4 separate regions of the Homo sapiens genome follow, and all the other regions are linked to region 1. Evidence: fine-mapped expression QTL. A gene starts in region 1. Each other region holds a variant in brackets. All regions are shown on one strand. Distances are from middle to middle.

Evidence for each region. PIP is the estimated chance that this variant, and not a neighbour inherited with it, causes the effect.
Region 2: its variant is the best candidate, but not a certain one, in a credible set for the expression of NRP2 in whole blood (TOPMed, PIP 0.65).
Region 3: its variant is the best candidate, but not a certain one, in a credible set for the expression of NRP2 in T cells (TOPMed, PIP 0.84).
Region 4: its variant is the best candidate, but not a certain one, in a credible set for the expression of NRP2 in whole blood (TOPMed, PIP 0.80).

What each region holds. Positions count from the first base shown.
Region 1 is chr2:205,680,347-205,684,514 of GRCh38, reverse strand. It overlaps NRP2 (neuropilin 2), which reads right to left and starts at 2,014. Exons shown (of 17, transcript NM_003872.3): 1 at 1,152-2,014. The coding sequence starts at 1,224. RefSeq lists an enhancer at 1-19 and a silencer at 2,494-2,613.
Region 2 is chr2:205,710,355-205,714,522 of GRCh38, reverse strand. All of the region lies in intron 2 of NRP2 (neuropilin 2), which reads right to left. Among named protein-coding and RNA genes, the nearest start is that of NRP2, 30 kb to the right of the region's middle. The variant C/G (reference allele first, on the strand shown) is at 1,719.
Region 3 is chr2:205,070,198-205,074,365 of GRCh38, reverse strand. The region is part of intron 4 of PARD3B (par-3 family cell polarity regulator beta); the gene reads right to left. Among named protein-coding and RNA genes, the nearest start is that of PARD3B, 530 kb to the right of the region's middle. The variant G/A (reference allele first, on the strand shown) is at 1,839.
Region 4 is chr2:205,867,665-205,871,832 of GRCh38, reverse strand. No RefSeq gene overlaps it. Among named protein-coding and RNA genes, the nearest start is that of NRP2, 190 kb to the right of the region's middle. The variant G/A (reference allele first, on the strand shown) is at 2,141.

The DNA of each region.
Region 1 (4,168 bases):
CTAGCTGATGTTCTGGGGATGCCAAGGAGGCTGCAGAGTTAGCTCTACCACTGCCGCCATCGCCTTGCAAGTGCCTTGGGTGAGGGCACTTCAGGAAGGCTTTTTCGCCTTTCTTTCACCCATTTCCTCCATAGATGGTTTCTCCATCTCCAATCACCTGTAGCAGCTGCTAAGAGTTTTGTTGTTAGATTCCAGACACTGTTCTCAGAGGGGTAGGGAGGCTCACTCTAGAGAGTGGTCCGAGAAGGAAGCACAAACCCCACTGCATTCCCCATGGATTCCCCTTTCCAGAGCATACCCCTTGCCGCTCCCCACAAATGCGGTCCCCAGACTGTTCTGGGCCTCGAAATGCTTATCTCCACAGCAGCCTGTCCACACACCCTTTTTGGCAGTGGTTGAGAACAAATTCCACTCAAAAGTTTCTAACCACTTCACAAGAGTGAGAGACCTTCGAGGGCCTGCAATTTGTTTTAGCTAATAATAATTTCTAAAAGAACGTACGATTTACTTTCCCAGACAACACATGGATGAAGAGAGAAGAGACCAACCGTCTTGGTTGCCAGCAGCACCCAACCCCAAGCCCCTATCTCAGCCACAAGCCAACTTGCTCCACCAGCCTGAGCCTTATGATTCTGAAGCATAACCAGTCATTCTCCAAAGAATCTACAGCATCTGAAAACCAAAACTAAACTCTTGTCTTTCCCAAGCCCTTCAGTTAACATTGCTCAATGTAGCTAAGTGGAGGGAATGCAAATGATTTATATTTCACTGGCTAGTTGGAGAAACTCAAGGGAGATGTGTTCTGCTTCAAGACAGGGAAAAAAAATTCCCAAAAACTGTAATGCAAAGGCTTTGTAGTATTTTTAAACCTTTGATTCAGTCCATATGTGACATATGAACACCGCCAAATTCTGTTTCAAAACACACTCACACACACACACACACACACACACACACACTCCTAGCAGGAGAGGAAAGTTGGGTTTTAGCAGCCGTGGTGGTGTAGGAAGGGCCGGCTGGGATCTCTCTTTAAATTATTGAGTACTGAGGGAGCCTTCTTCTGTGCCGTTCTGCGTGGCCTTCCTGCTTTAGCGGTCACTTTTAAAGGGGAAACCATGTTGCAATAAATAGAAAAACTTTCAGTGGCTTACCTGGTTGGCCTCTCACTTGGTGTCTTGAAAAGTAGAGGGCTAAGAAAACCCAGGTGAGAGGAAACATATCCATTTTGGAGAAGGTGGCTCTTTCCAGAGCTGGGTTCGTAGGTTTCTTGTTTAAATCTTTGTGTTTTTCTCTCTTTTATTTTCCTCCTTACAACGTCTTATGCAGAGGTTTCTAATGGTCAGCGTTTCCCTCCTGAGTCCTGGTGGCTTGTCTTCACCTCTATTCTTGCTGGAATTTCCACCTCACCAGGAGGAGAGTAGCTCCTGAAATCAGCAAAGAGGGAACAAGCCGGGAAGAGAACACGGTTTTCCTCTTAAAAACAAAACGCATATATGTTCTCTCCAGTTCCTCAAAGTGTCATTTCCTTTATCCTACAAATATCACGAGTATTTCCCGAAAGCCAAGCGTAACAATAATGATAATAATAATAATTAAAACCAAGACTTGCCTTGGGCATCACACGGCCCCCAGGCAGCTGTGTGATCTCAGAGGCGTAAACTGACACACATCCCGCGGCACCCTTGACGGACACACGGGCGGAGGCAGCCGCCGCCGGACAGCCCGAGTGGAAGGCGGCCGCCCTGCTCTTGTCCTCGCCGGGTTCCCCCGGCGGGAGCCTCCCCCAACGGCTACACCCGCTTGGCCAGCCTCTCGAGGGGAGTCTGAGGAAGGAAGCTGCTGCTGCTGTTGCTGCTGCTGGTGCGGCGGCGGTGGCGGCTGGGATCGCCTGGGAGTGAGCGAGCCCCTCTCCGAGTTCGCTGGCGCCCGCCCTCACCTCCACCTCGCCGAGTGTCTGTGCGGCTGAGGATGTGCTGGGGGCCGGCTGCAGGCTGGTGCCTCGCTCGCGATCTCTGCCTCCCCTCCGGCTCCCCACTGCCTTTTCAGGCCGAGCAGCATGTGGATGTCAGAGCCGCGGCAGAGCTATCCGATTACGCGCCGGCTCAGGGCCCGCCCCTTCTGTGTTCCTGATTAAAGAGGCAGCCGCGGAGACGCGCGGCGCAGAGCAGAGTGCCGCGGCACCCAGCTCGGGCGGGGCGGCGACGGCTTCTCTCGGGCCGCCGCAGGATCGAAGTTAAGGCGGCGCCCATCCCACCACCCCTCGCCCGCCCCGCATCTCCCGATCGCCCCCGCGCACCTCCGCGCCGGGCCGCCGGTGCGTAACGCCCTGGGGAAGAAGCGCCCCCGGGCACCCCCAGGGCGCGCCGCCTTGGCCGTGTCGCCCCCACCCAAGGGAGACCCCGGGGGGACGGGGGGAAAAGCCTTGTTCCCCCTAAATTCCACGACTCCGATGCCACACACGCAGAACCCAACACAATGCCACGCGCGATGGCGTTACAAGAGGAGTTGGGTGGCGTACGGTGTTTGGGGTAGCGAGCCGGTCGGCAGCTCAGCCATGCGTTCGAACAGGCAGCGGTGCGTGGCGGCGACACACACCGTCAGCCCGGTCTGAATAAAACCCCAAACACTCGCTGCGTTTACTACTCAGATCCTTTGTTATGTCCCAAACATGCTCTGCTCCTCTCTGGGTTAGGATTTCGTTACCCCTGCGCCTTTAACTGTAACTACCCTAAAAAGAGGAAAGACTTTCTTCAGCAAATAATTTCTTCAGGTAATTAAATTGGATTCCATCAAGTTCCCCCGAAAAAGTATAGGTGCTTGAAGGCGTCTCATCCAAATGCTACTGTAACTACGTCTATTCACATTTTCCCCCATGGAAACGTGGTCACAAAGCCTAGAGAAAGAAAACATCATTATGCCAACTATTTTTAAATGGAGGCGTGAAAACTGTTTAGAGGGAACTGCAAGCTAACAGTTGGGGAAACACTTGTATCTTTGTTTCTGAGGATGGCTTTGTGGATTCCAAACTGTCTTGCTTCACCAGACACCTATTACTACATTATCATAAAGACTGCAACAGAAACAGCCTAAATTACACCCTGCACATGTACACCTTTTCTGCCACAAAAGAGGTATATGAAAAATAAGAAAATTCAGAAAAATATTTACAGATTAAGATTTTTTTTAAATTAAGAAAGTAAAATTTTCTGTAGATTAAGAAAAATACAGTTTCGGTGACGAGAAACACACACCTGACTACCCATTTTCTTCTTGGCTTGTACTTGTGGATTCTTCTGGGTGGTTTCCCTCCTTATCTGGACTTGCCCATTAGCTTTATCACTTTTAGTGTTTGAAAAATCTGTAACTCCCACTTAACTGTTATTTACACTGAGATAACCAAAACAAAATTGAATCAGAAGTGATTTGCAAATAGTTGAGCCAAGCTGTGTTGGGGGGTGGCGCGGGATTTTAGAGTGGAAATCCACAGGCTGAGTATCACACTGTTAATCTCAGATGCCTGGTTGGGAAAGGCACAGCACAGAGGCCTCTGAGTTCTTCCAGGGAGCATGTCTCTTGGCTAGCCTAAATGCTACCTTTCATTCCCTCTTTGCCTCCCTCCTTCCTCTTCCTCCCTCCTTTCCTTCCTTCTTCCTTCCTTTCTAGGCTTGAGAGCACATCCACATTATTAAAAACTCCAGATTTACATTTCTCCTCTTTAAAGCTCAATTGTAAAGAATGACTCCAAGCCTTAAATATTTAACAAAGTAAAAGAGCAGTTTGGATTATTAACCTTAAGCAGAGATCCCGGTTTATGTCATTGCCAAGATGCTAATCTAAGGACAAAGAACGCTATCTGTAGTGACAGTCCCTGAATAGAGAGGGCCATTTAATATCACCTCTCCCCACCACTCACCAGGCATGCCAAACCATTTTTGCCAGTGCCCAATGTGGGAGACTCCTGTTTGTGAGAATAATGTAGCCAGGGTTTAGGTGAAGGGCACTGTGAAAGGGGGAAAGAAGAGAGAAAAGGTAAACCTAAGCCCACTGGAGAACCATAAGAATGACAACCCTGGACTTCTGGTCTTGGGGTCTCAGGGATGAAGGTCCCCATCAGGCTGCTTCCAGAGTAGAGAAAAGTAAGAATCAGTTTTGTTCCTGGCCTGGTTGC
Region 2 (4,168 bases), 30 kb before region 1:
GGAAACTCCCAAACCTTCCAGAAAACCCCTCCGTGCTATTTTCACACTAAGGCAAGCACTGCTGGACAGACACATTCCTGTGAGCAATGGTGATGCCCTGGCAATGTGCACAAAGGTTGAGAGGCTCTGCTACCCATGTTCATTAATCAGACAACTCATCTGGACTAAGAAATGCATGGCCCAGAGCGCAAGAGTCCCAATCCCAGAAGCAGACAGAGCTGGGCTTGCACCCCAGCTTGGCCACTTTTTAGCTGGGTGACCTCAGGCAAGTTACTGAACCTTTCTGAGCCTCAGAAATGGGGAGAAAAAGAGTAAAGTAGGGATATTACAGTCTTCTCCTAGGGTTGATGTGGGACTTAAATGACAAAATCTAATCTATCTAAAGTGTTAGTCCATAGTCTGGCACTCAGTGAGTGCTAAGTAAATGTGAACTGTGATTTGTTGTATTTTCACACCCATTTCACAGGCAAGGAGGCTGAGCCACAGAGCAGAAGCGACCCTGTTTTCAGAAATGGAACAAATGAGCAGAGGTGTAGTATCAGCGGGAATGGAAATCTGTTCAAACATTCTGAAAGGCATTTTGGTGAAATGTGACAGAAGTTAATATGTACATAGCCTTTAATCCAGCAATCCTACTGCTAGGAATTTTTCCTAAGAAAATAATCAGACAATTGTGCAAAGATGCATATGCATCTTTGTGCATATATTTTGAAAAAATATAAAAAGTGGGAGGATATTTTGCTTATAAATGGTTTCAAAGCCCAACCGTAGAGGGAGGGTGAATCCATCTGGGATATTTATAAAATGGAATACTCTCCTGCTACAATCAATAGTCTGCAGGTCTAGAATTTTTTGTTTTTATGGAAAAATGTTCACGCTATACTGTTAACTTTTTAAAAAGGAGATTTTTTAAAAGTATGTTTTAAAAGGTATACATACATTTCCTCACATAAACATACAGAGGAAGTCTGAAAGACTACTAAAATATGAACAATGGCGACAGACATGGGTGGTAGGATAATTGGTAATTTTTTCTCTCTTCTTTGTAAAAGAATCCAGCTGTCATGATTTAGCAGATGTAGAAGGAAGTTCATCATCATCACCATCATCATCCATGTCACAGAACTGGAGTGAGGAATAAATGAGACACAGTAGGTCGGGACATCTGGAACAGTGCCAAGGACATGACCCACATTCAATAAATAATTTTTTAAACTTTTTTTTTAAAGCTTCACCAGATAGTTCCAGTCTTTGTGTTGCCAATTTCTCTAGGAAGGACAAAGAGAGGCCCTGCCATCCCACTGGCTTGTTCATCAGAAGTGAGAGGGTTTTATCTGGTTGCCTAATCACCCATGGAGTCATTTAGGGGATTAACAGAATCAGCAATGAAGCAGGGCTGCCCAACAAATGCCACTGTTACAAGCTTGCCTCAATTTACTCAACGGATACAGACCACCCCAAATCCCTTCTTGTAATGCTGCCTGCAACAAATACATCCTTATGTATCTAACACACATATAGAGAAGGGATGCATTTTTGAAAAAGCTTCATATAATTCAATCATACTATAAATTTTTTCTCTGAGCTTGTTAGTTAAAGGACCCCTCTGCTGAATCCTTTTGTGAAGCAAATAATCAACAAACCTTACTTGAACTTCTTAGAAAAACTAGATTTTTCTATAAGGTTTGCTTGAGGGGAAGTGACACAGAGTTACAGTT[C/G]GGCAGCTGAAATCCCCCCAACTTCCAGTCTTCTGGTTCTGCCCTGTGGACAAGCCCCACTTAACCACATGGTCTTCTGGCTGGGCCTTTTATATAAAGGGCACACTCCAAATGACATGCTGACTTCATACAGAATGTCTCATTTACCTCCTGTGTGACTGACTCATTTGGGGAAATTTTTTATTATGAGGGATTTGCTACAGCTGGAGTAAATCTCCTTAGAAATTTCAGTGTTGTCAGGTTCATTTGTGAAGAGTTAGGCAGAGGCTTAGGAAGTTTCTGGCTTTGGAATAAATACGGCTTTGCATCTAGTGTCTAATATCCAGTGTTTGGTAAAGGAATCCGGGGTACAGACTCAGAGCTCACCCCAACGATAGTCAAGTAGGATAACTTGAAAAGCTGCTCCTCTTAGAACGTATCACTCGTTTTCCAGAAGGCAACATAAACCAGCTAACAGACATATTAACTAGAGTGTTTGCATTTCATTATCCATAATCTCTCCTAAACGAAAAATTCCTTTCAAAGCTTTAACACTACCTTGTATTGTTTTATTTATTTTTTTCCTGAGCTGAAGTAGCCATCTCTACTCCCAGTTCTTTATTTTCTCTCTAAAACGGTTCCCCGAGTGCCTTTTTATTTGTCTCCTCACAGATTCTGAAGTCTGCATGGTGAGCATTTGTCTAGAGAATGCTTTCTCTACTTTCTTTCTCAACTTCAAAGTCTTACATTTCTCTCCCCAAACCTACATTTGGGCCATGGGAAATTTTGACAGTGAAGTTAATTTTAAGAGTCCACGGGAGAGATATGAAAAAGCAACAATCTCATCTCTTCCTCTCATCACTAGGCAAACATGAAAAAGGGCTTTCTAGTTTCCATAACTGTCTCCACGCTTGACACTTCCCAGCAGGGCACCAAAGGCTGGGTTAGTCAACGGAGCCTGTGCTGGAAGATTCACCAAGCTTAGGTCCTTCTCTCAGGGCACCGAAATGTCTGGCCCTTGTCAGAATCCAGCTTTAGGGATGCCACACAGAACCACTTGGAAGGGGATTTCTGTATCGAAGATAGAGTACTTAGGTCTTCGGAGGAAGAATACTCTGCCCCTTCTTTTGGGTCTACGTATCAGAACATCTCTGCCCAAGTCCTGACATCATAACCTTTGCCAACCAAGCAAGGCCTCCTTTCACACTGCTCATCATAAGATCATAAGATGTTGAAGACATTTTGTATATGGTGAGCTCTTTCCAACCCCAGGGCCTTTGCAAGCGCTCTTTCCTCTGCCTGCAGTACTCCTCATTGGTGCTTTCCAGGGCTGGTTGTTGCTCATCCTTCAGGCTTAAGGACAAATGTTACCTCCACAGAGAAGCCTGCTGTCACCACCCTATTTCAGATGGCATGCCCTTATTCTCTATCTCACCATCATCTTACTTCTTTCATAGCTATGATTATAATCTGGAAAGGTCTTGTCAATATACCTATTTGTTTATGATCTGTCTCCTGCACCAGACAATAAGCACCATGAAGGCAAGGACCTTGCCTCTTCACTGCTGAATTTACGACACTTCCCTGGTGCCTGGCATGTAGGAGGTCTCATTCACTTTTTGTTGAGTAAATAAATGTAAATGAATAAGGGACTTCAGGCTGGTGTTCCATGTTGAGAAGAATGCGTGCTACGATGATGCTTTCCGTGGAGTTTGATCCATTTTATACTCTCTGTCTTTGTGCCCCAACACATTTACTGAGCTATTCTGGTTGTATCTGAAAACCAAAATGTTGCCTTGTGACTCAAAAACATGAAATATAACATTTTGAGTGGAAGAAACATCTCAAATCATGCTGACAGCATTTTCACTATTAGCGGCAAACAAATCAACTATAATTAAAATGCTGTCAAAGTGATTTGAGATTTTTCTCACACTTTCAAAGTTCCATATTTCATGAGTAGATTATCCAGGCCAGAGAATTTATCACCTCCTGGAGTGCCTTTCTTCCAGGAGGCTCAAAGACATCTACAAACACTGTCTTATTAATCCTTACATTAAAACCTGTGAGGAAATTAGGAGGAAAAAAAACAGCACTGTCACATACAACTTCCCAACAAAGAAGCTGCACGATGTCTAAAAAGGCTGCAAGGCAGATCTGCACAATGCTGAGGTCTCTGGTCGGTTCAGGCCTGAAGCCAGGCCACCTGCTCCTTAGGCTCAGTACAGTCACCTAGCCTTTATGGAGAAGTCAGCTCACTGTCAGGTCAGACTTTTTAAAGTAAATTTCATTTCCTTGAATTTCTGCCTTGCATCTGTACCACCCATTTACTAAAAAGCTGGTATATCTGCAAACTGTTCACATTTTATTGAGCATTTACTATGGGCCAGGCCATTGATTCAGATATTATTTCATTTAATCCTCATTTCATCCAAACCAGGCCCTGTTACAATTACCATCCATTTGCAGAT
Region 3 (4,168 bases), 610 kb after region 1:
AAAGTTCAAATGAGTGGAAAATCATTGATATATGCAAATATATTACATAAGATATATAATTCTTAGCATAAAAGTTAATGAGACAATAGTCTTTTCAAAAGTTTTTTGTAATTAATGTCTTTGTTTTTATTCAAATAGACAATTTGAAGATTAGCAAAATTATTTCAGAAAGTGCTATATGAATCAAGCATTTTGACACAAATATTCTCAATACAATCTGAACTTATAAATGAGAAGCTCTAGGAATGAATGGATCCAACTAGAAAAAGATACATTTAAATAAAAGAAGCAATGGATATTTAAAATAAGCTTTTAAAATGTCCACTAAGATTAGTCATACAACAGCCTTACCATTTGTCTAATGGGACTGAAGTGCATTTTGTAGAGATCCTGTTAATAAGATAAAGAGGAATATGTGTGGGCTAGGTTGTTCACATGTATGTATATCACAAGAATCAGCCCTACAGCTTCAATTTGTTGTTTATAAGCAGTGAAACTACAAAACACTGGGGATCATTGTTTATATTCCTTATTTGGAAATGTTTCAGGTTTTATATTCAACACATCTTTCCAATAATAGCTACAGATGTCATACATGTGCCTAGGGCTTTTTAATGGTTTCCTGTTCTAACGCCTGGTGTGAATTGAACAAAATATGGACAATCCTTGCCCTTTTAGGGAAAGGGGGAAAAAAGCAACAAAGAAACATAATCAGGTCTAAAAACAAGTTTATCCTACTTTGTACAAAGAAAACAGAAAGAGTCTGGGGAAGATAAACTAATTTCTACCAGTTTCTGCCTACCACATATACACTAACTCAATTTAGATTGATTTGATAATGTCTACAGACTTACTTTCAAGGTTACTATATACATTTGGACTTTTTTTCCCGAAAAAATAGCATGAGATGAAATGTTGTCTAGTTCCATTTAATTTTATTTCAGTTTTATCTTGGTTTCTTACTTCAAAGCAAATAAGACAAGTTTTTCGACATCTTTTCAAAATTTACCACAGCAGGACACCACCAGAACCAATCTTCTTTATATAGAATAACACAACTTTAAGCAAAGGGATGGTGATTTTTAAAACACACCCTGATTTACAGGAAAACTGCTGTTTACACAAGAGGGGAATAAAATAGCTTTATTTTACATTTACATTTTTTAAGTGGCCCACTTTAATTCACACAAATAACCATTTATTCAGCTCTAGGGTAATAGAAAGGTAATTGGAATAGTAACCAAAAAACAAAATCTTAGTTCTTTATTTTCAACTAACTGGCTTTTTGCTAATAATGTTTGTATTAAATTTCATGGATACCGTTTAAATGTTTAAAAGATATATATTAAAATTTATGAAGATAGGACTTAGGAAAATCACTTAATCCCTCTGAAATTTAATTTCTGCAGTTACTGTATATCATATACTGAGCAAATTGAAGAAAAACAGGACATTTCTATCCTTAAGGAGCTAATGGTTTGACTCTCATACATAAAATTTTAATTCTAATCTATCTCATTGCATGTTGGTTTTTAAAAGTTGGTATCGTCGCTTTTACTAAATAGAATTAGTATAACTAAACTAAGAAGTATGGCCATAGCAAGTAGTGCAAATTATTTTTTAAACAGTAAATGAATGCAGTTACAGAGAAGGATATTATTTTCTTCCTCATTATTTTCAATTTTTCTATTTAAAATAAGTTTTACCAAGAAAATGTTATTTAGACCTTAAAATATCCAGATTATACTGTACCATAGTTGTGAACCACTGATATGAAATAAAATTTAATTGTCTCCACCTATACTTTAATCCTCAGCTGGGTGCCGTAGGTCATGCCT[G/A]TAATCCCTGCGCTTTGGGGAGGCCACGGTGGGTAGATCACCCAAGGTCAGGAGTTTGAGACTAGCCTGGCCAACGTGGTGAAACCCCGTCTCTACCAAAAATGTAAAAATTAGCCAGGCGTGGTGGCGCACGCCTGTAATCCCAGCTACTTGGGAGGCTGAGGCAGGAGAATCGCTTGAACCCAGGGGGGCAGAAGTTGCAGTGAGCCAAGAGTGCGCCATTGCACTCACTCCAGCCTGGGGGACAAGAATGAAACTCTGTCTCAAAGAAGAAAAAAAAAAAAAAAGGACCTGAATTATTTTAATTATGAAGTCCAAATACAAGTTTATAAGAATGTAAGCAGTCTTTTAATGTGGAATTTTTGATCATATTATTTAATGCCTATGATTTATTAATGACAGGAATACCATCGTCAAACTATATCTTATTTCTTTACAACAAGATGAATTAAAAGTGTGATGTTTACTATTATGTGAGACTACATATATTTTTAAGAAGAAATACAAATAAGAACTCATAATTTATAGCTTTTAAAAAAAAGCTAATTCACAGAAAACATGAGTCACACAAGCACAAAAATTGCTCAAACAAGTGGCTAAATCTGCTTAAAATGTAATGACCAGTGTTTTGCATTTTTTGTTTTTTTTAAGATAAAATTTGGATCTATAGACAGCAATGTGAGAGTACCAACAATTAGAGAGAGTGTGTAAAAGTGGCAGTTATGTTTAGGAAGACAGAAATTCTGGATAACAATAATTTATTTTAAAAATTACTATGTGTGTATCTCTGTATACACACACACATACGTGATACACTACAAAGTGAAAAGATTCTTATTTCAAATGACTTTACATGTTAATGCTTTGATGGTACATCTTTTGTTGTCTGTACTAACAGCAGTGCTGTTATTTAAAAACATTTACATTGTAGAATAAATCAAATCCATACTTACATTAAAGTTAATAGCACTCAAGACTCTCAAGGTGAAAGAGAAGCAATTAGAAAATCAAAGAAATTAAACTCAGTGATAAAACAATTATAGACATTGATTTCAACTCTGGATTTTAAGTGTATATATTCACATATTTTCCCTAAGTCTGGCCAGAACATGATACAGAAGTAATTTGTTCTCAGGAACAAGATGCACACCTAGGACCGGAGTTTGGTTTCTAGGACCATTCTCTACAGATCTTTGGCGAGAAGAATGGCGGCAAGTGTGGGGCAATGAAGGTATATAGTGATCTTGGGAAATCTTGCTGTTCCATAAAGGAAGGAAACTTGTAAGAATTAATACAATCATGTCAAGAACCCAGAAGCTAGTCTGAAGGAGCTTCTACTCAGCAAAGCTGAGACATCAGAAAGAAAGATCATGGGTGATTTGCACACACTGTATTTATGAAAGGCTGAGTCCACAGTGATAAGAAAGAAGCCAAAGAAAAATCTTCTGTCATCATTTGACACTTCCAAGAAACAAATTTACTTTGAAAACTGGCCATTTAAAACCCCAAATTAAGTGGTTTTTTTTTTTACATTAACAGTATGCACTTTATTTCCAGGTAATCAAATAGCCCCAGTTATAGAAAGCTGTGGAAAGCTCTACATTATAAAAGAGTGCGAGCAAATGTAGAAGAAATGAAATAGTTAAAAACTGTTACACTGCAAAACTTAATGAAATTAGTATTTCAGCATAAAATTGTTAGTTATAAAAATATTGACAGTAACTGGACGTAGTGACAAAGTTAGTTCACAAATGATTACCTATTGTTTCAAGTAGAACATATTGATGCTTGCAATGGATGGATGAGTTTGTCACCACCTTAACCCAATAATCAAATTTAGGTTACTAATGGCGAAAAACAAAACAAAACTTATTATGTATCTTTTGATCTTATACATAAGAAGTATTGCTATATATCACCTATGATATAGTATTGCTAAAATGTTTAACTTACATTTAAGCAAGGCTTTAGTACGACTTTCAGCTAACAGAACCTACAGGGACAAGAGGAACAATTCAAACAACTTTACAGGGAAGCAATTAAATTCATGCAAAATGACCTGCTCAGAGACAACTGGTTGGTTTTCTGCAAGTCAATGTCATGAACAAAGATTATAGAGATGTAAAAGACATAGCAACTAGATGCAGTGTTTAGTCTTAGATTAAATCCTGATTTAAAAAAACAGCTGGAGAACTGGGGAAATTCTAATGTGGATTAAGTATTGATATTAAAAACTGCTAATTTCATGGGGCACGATAGTGTTATATTTACAATATTAAAAATACTTATTGTTTTAGATACATATTTAAGTTTTAGGGGTTGTATGTCAT
Region 4 (4,168 bases), 190 kb before region 1:
TTGACAGGCAGCCTCCAAAGCCAGTTCTTCAGAGAGTCTTCATACAGTTCCTGGACAATGTAGGAGTATGAAGACATGGCCATCTTGTGTCAGATATCTGATACATTGCAATAGCAAATGCATCCCCCTCTGCTGGTGTATATCCCAATAATCCGCCAGCACCTGATTTTACAACTAGATCGGACCACTGAATTGTGCCAGGGGCTCAGTGTTCCACTGTCCACAAGTGAGTGCTGGAGTCTCATTGCCAGCCAGATGGGAAGTGATACAGTCCCAAATTCTATCTCTTCTCAAGTTTTCTCTTACATTGGTGGTACTGATTGCTGCAGGTTGGGCTCCTTGGGAAGCTGACTCCAGAGGGAGTTGAGCGTGGAGTTTAGCATGTAGGAGGTTTATTAATGATGGTCCCCAGAAAGGAAAAGGAAGGAAGCAGAAGGGCACAGAGGGAGAAATTGAGCTGCTGCTGCAGGCCCAAGGACAGCCTCGGCTCAAGTCAGGTCAATTCTGGGAGCTAAAATGACTTCAGAGTTATCTGAATGGGGACGAGATGGCTGGGTCTGTATACTCCTACACTGTCCAGTAACTGGATGAAGGCTCTCTGAAGGACAGGTTTGGAGGCTGCCTGCCCACAGCATTCCTAGCAACTGGGCCAGCAAGTCTTTGATTAAAGGGGAATCTGCATGGTGCAATTCAGTGTCCACCAAAATGTCCAATCCAGAGATCCTTAAACTGTATTAAATGAAGAGTTCTTATGTGGCTCCTTACCTGCATGTCTATTGAAGTAAGTGGCTACTAAAATTAGAATTAATTGTGTGTCTCTCAGTTCTACTAAACTGAGTTCTTTGAAGGGTGGGACTTTGTCTTATGTATTCTGTATCTCAGGTCCTGAGCAAATGGTCAAATGCCTGGGATTAGACACATAGAAGGTGTTTAAGACTTGTCTGTTGTTGAACGTTGAGTAGGTTTTATGGTTGACCGTCTTTGATGGGTAGATAGGCTTTCGGGAGTACCATCGTTGGTCATGAGAATCCAAGCCCATCACTAGAATGCTTCTCCTCATTTGCAATCCTGGTAAATTAATTCAGCAAATGTTAATGATCACTTGCTAAGTGCCAGGTATGACTCTAGATGTTACAAGAAATGTGATGAACAGGATACCATTTTTGCCCTCAATGGGGTGACAACTTTAAAGAACAGGACTCAAAGGAAATTAGAGCTATATCAAGTCATATTTTGAGATTCATCAGGAAATTTTGATCTCTTGGTTGGACATCTCTGAGCTGATTCTCATAATTCTAACTGTCTGGATCCAGGCCAGGTACATGTGATAGGCTGGGCCAAAGTCAGTGGAAGAGTTATGTTTAGCTGAGAAATGAGAGAGGGTAGAACACCACTCACTTCATCCAACATAGGTGTCTTTATCAACACATCAAGAAGAATCTGTGCAGTTTGAGCCTATATAGCAATGTCTTTGATGGTGTTAAGTAGCAGTACACTGAAGTATAACACAGGCTTTGAGCATAGTGGTTTATACCTGTGCTGTTCAATATAGTAGCCACTGGCCTCATGTGGCTATTTAAATATTCAATTAAAATTAATTGAGGTTGAATAAAATCACAAATGTAGTTCTTCAGTTGCACTAGTCACATTTTAAGTGCACATAGTGACATGTGGCTAATGGCTACCCTATTGGACAGAATAAATTTTAGAACATTTCCATTCCTGCAGAAGGTGCTATTGGATGGCAATGATTTAGACTATCACTGGCTCACAGAACATTAGAGCAGGAGCTGTATTACTCAGTTATTAGATTGGGACACTGGGACCTGTAAAGCAACTAAGACTGGGATCACTTGAGTCTCAGTTCAATGATTTGATTCTTTGTTTACAGACTTCTTTCGGTTCATAGGCATGTAGATCCTCTTTAATAGTCCAAGATACCTAATATTAATATAATACAAATTATCCTTCCATGCCTCTGTCCTTCCATCCATCCATCCATCCATCCATCCATCCATCCATCCATCCATCCATCCATCCTTTCCTCCTCCCATCCCCCAGCACACTCTACTTTTCATTCTACCTGTACTGGTTACATTGACTGGGACTATCCCAGTCAATAAGACACAATTCCTGGTGA[G/A]AAGGAGATTATGTAAAACCTAATAGAGGACTTAGAAATATGATGATGCAATATGATTGGTGCTGTGGTTGAGGTCAGAGCCAAGTGCAGAGAGCCCAGAGGAGGTAAGATGAATCCTGGCTTGGGACAGGCATTACAAAGGAAATGACATTGAATTTGAGTGCTGAAGGATGAACAGGAGTTTATTAGGTAAGAAAGAAGAGAAGGCATCTAGGAAAAGGGAGCAACAGGAGCCAGAGTGTGAAGGCATGCAAGTGCACTGAGCCTGGGGACAGTGACAGTTCACTGTGGCCTCGGTGTGGCTGTGGGAGGGCTGGGGGTGTGGAAGCAATGCTAGGAGACAAGGTCTGGTCCATCTGTATGAGAACTTGTATGCCAGGCTGAGAGGTATGGGCTTTATCTAGCAGGCAATGGGAGCCTTTGGAAATAAATAAGAAGGAGAAGGATGTGAGTGGATCCGTGTTTTAAGATCAGTCTTTGGAGATGTAGGGAATGGACCAGGGGTACAATCAGTTCATCTCCCTGCATTTGTCCAACATGGAATCAAACTCCTGAATCTTGCGCAATAATGATGTTGTTACTTTCTTCTTGGAGTTATATCACAGTTAATTCCCTCCAGTTAAACATTGTAAGCATTTCTGTCTTACTTTTGCTCCTCCTCTTTCTGACTCATTACCCACAGGACTTCCCCATCAGCCTCCCGCTAAACCACACTTTCTCCAGCATCAGGTCACATGGGAGGTGGAAGGGAGTATGGGGGAGAGGCCAAGAAGCAGTCGCCACCACCATCGGAGCAACCCGAAGCATGTGTAGCCCTAATGCCTGTGTCCCTGGTGTCCTCTGTACAGCTCATTGAGAAACGCCGCTCCTGCTGTTTCCCAGACACAGGTGGATCCTGGGATGATGGAGGGCCATCCTCACTCCTGCCTGGAAGAGAGCTGAAGTCATCCACAGGGAAGAATGAGTCCTTCCTCAACTTGATTTTCTCCAAGAAAACTTAAGGAATGGAGCAGCGAGGAACTTAGAGAAACCGCTTACCCAGTGGAAGAAAATTAGGCTGTGTCCCCATCCCCTTCTCCTGAGGAGAGAATGCTTTGTTGGGCTAACAGTTATGTTGGACTAACAGCTATGACAATATGCAATTAATAGTAAGTTTCTTTGTAACAGATAATAGTCAAAACATCTTGAAGCCCATTCACAGAGACAACTTTGGGGGAAGCCTCGGCTGTCCACACACACATCGAACACTGTCATTAAGCCCTCCTGGAATGACAGTAGCTATAGTTCATTATCCCGGGTGGTGGTTGTGGGGGGTACTCTATTCTTTACATTTTCTTTGAGAAAAAAAATGTCTTTTAAAACTTAATTTGCAACACAACACAGTCACATAAATGGAAAAGGATGTGGCCTGATGATTCATGAAGGAACCCAAATGATGAGGGGCTGTGCTAATTTCTGACAACTGAGTGATTTATTTCAAAAGAAAGGCCCTGCACCCCCTAATTGGATACTTCCACTGGCTAGATGAGCATGAGTTTCTCAGCAGAATTTTACATAAATAAAATTAAGTCATATCTTTGTCTGTGGATAGACATGCTGAAACACATCTCTTAAAAACCCTATTTATTTTTATGAATAAAAATAAGCCCAGTCTTTTCATTTCAATCAACATCAAACATTGCAGTTACTGATTCAACATCTATTCTGTCTTCTTCCTTATGAAGGAATCATATTTTGTTTAGAGCAAACGTGCCTACTTAAAAATCTCACAGGAGTGGTCACTCACGCTTGTAATCTCAGCAATTTGGGAGGCCAAGATGGGAGGATAGCTTCAGGCCAGAAGTTTGAGACCAGCCTGGGCAACTTAGTCAAAACTCATCTCTACAAAAATTTTTTTTTAAAAATTAGCAGGACATGGTCACTCATGCCTGTAATCTCAGCAATTTCAGAGGCCAAGTTGGGAGAATAGCTTGAGGCCAGGAGTTTGAGACCAGCCTGGGCAATATAGAATGTGTCTCTACAAAAAAA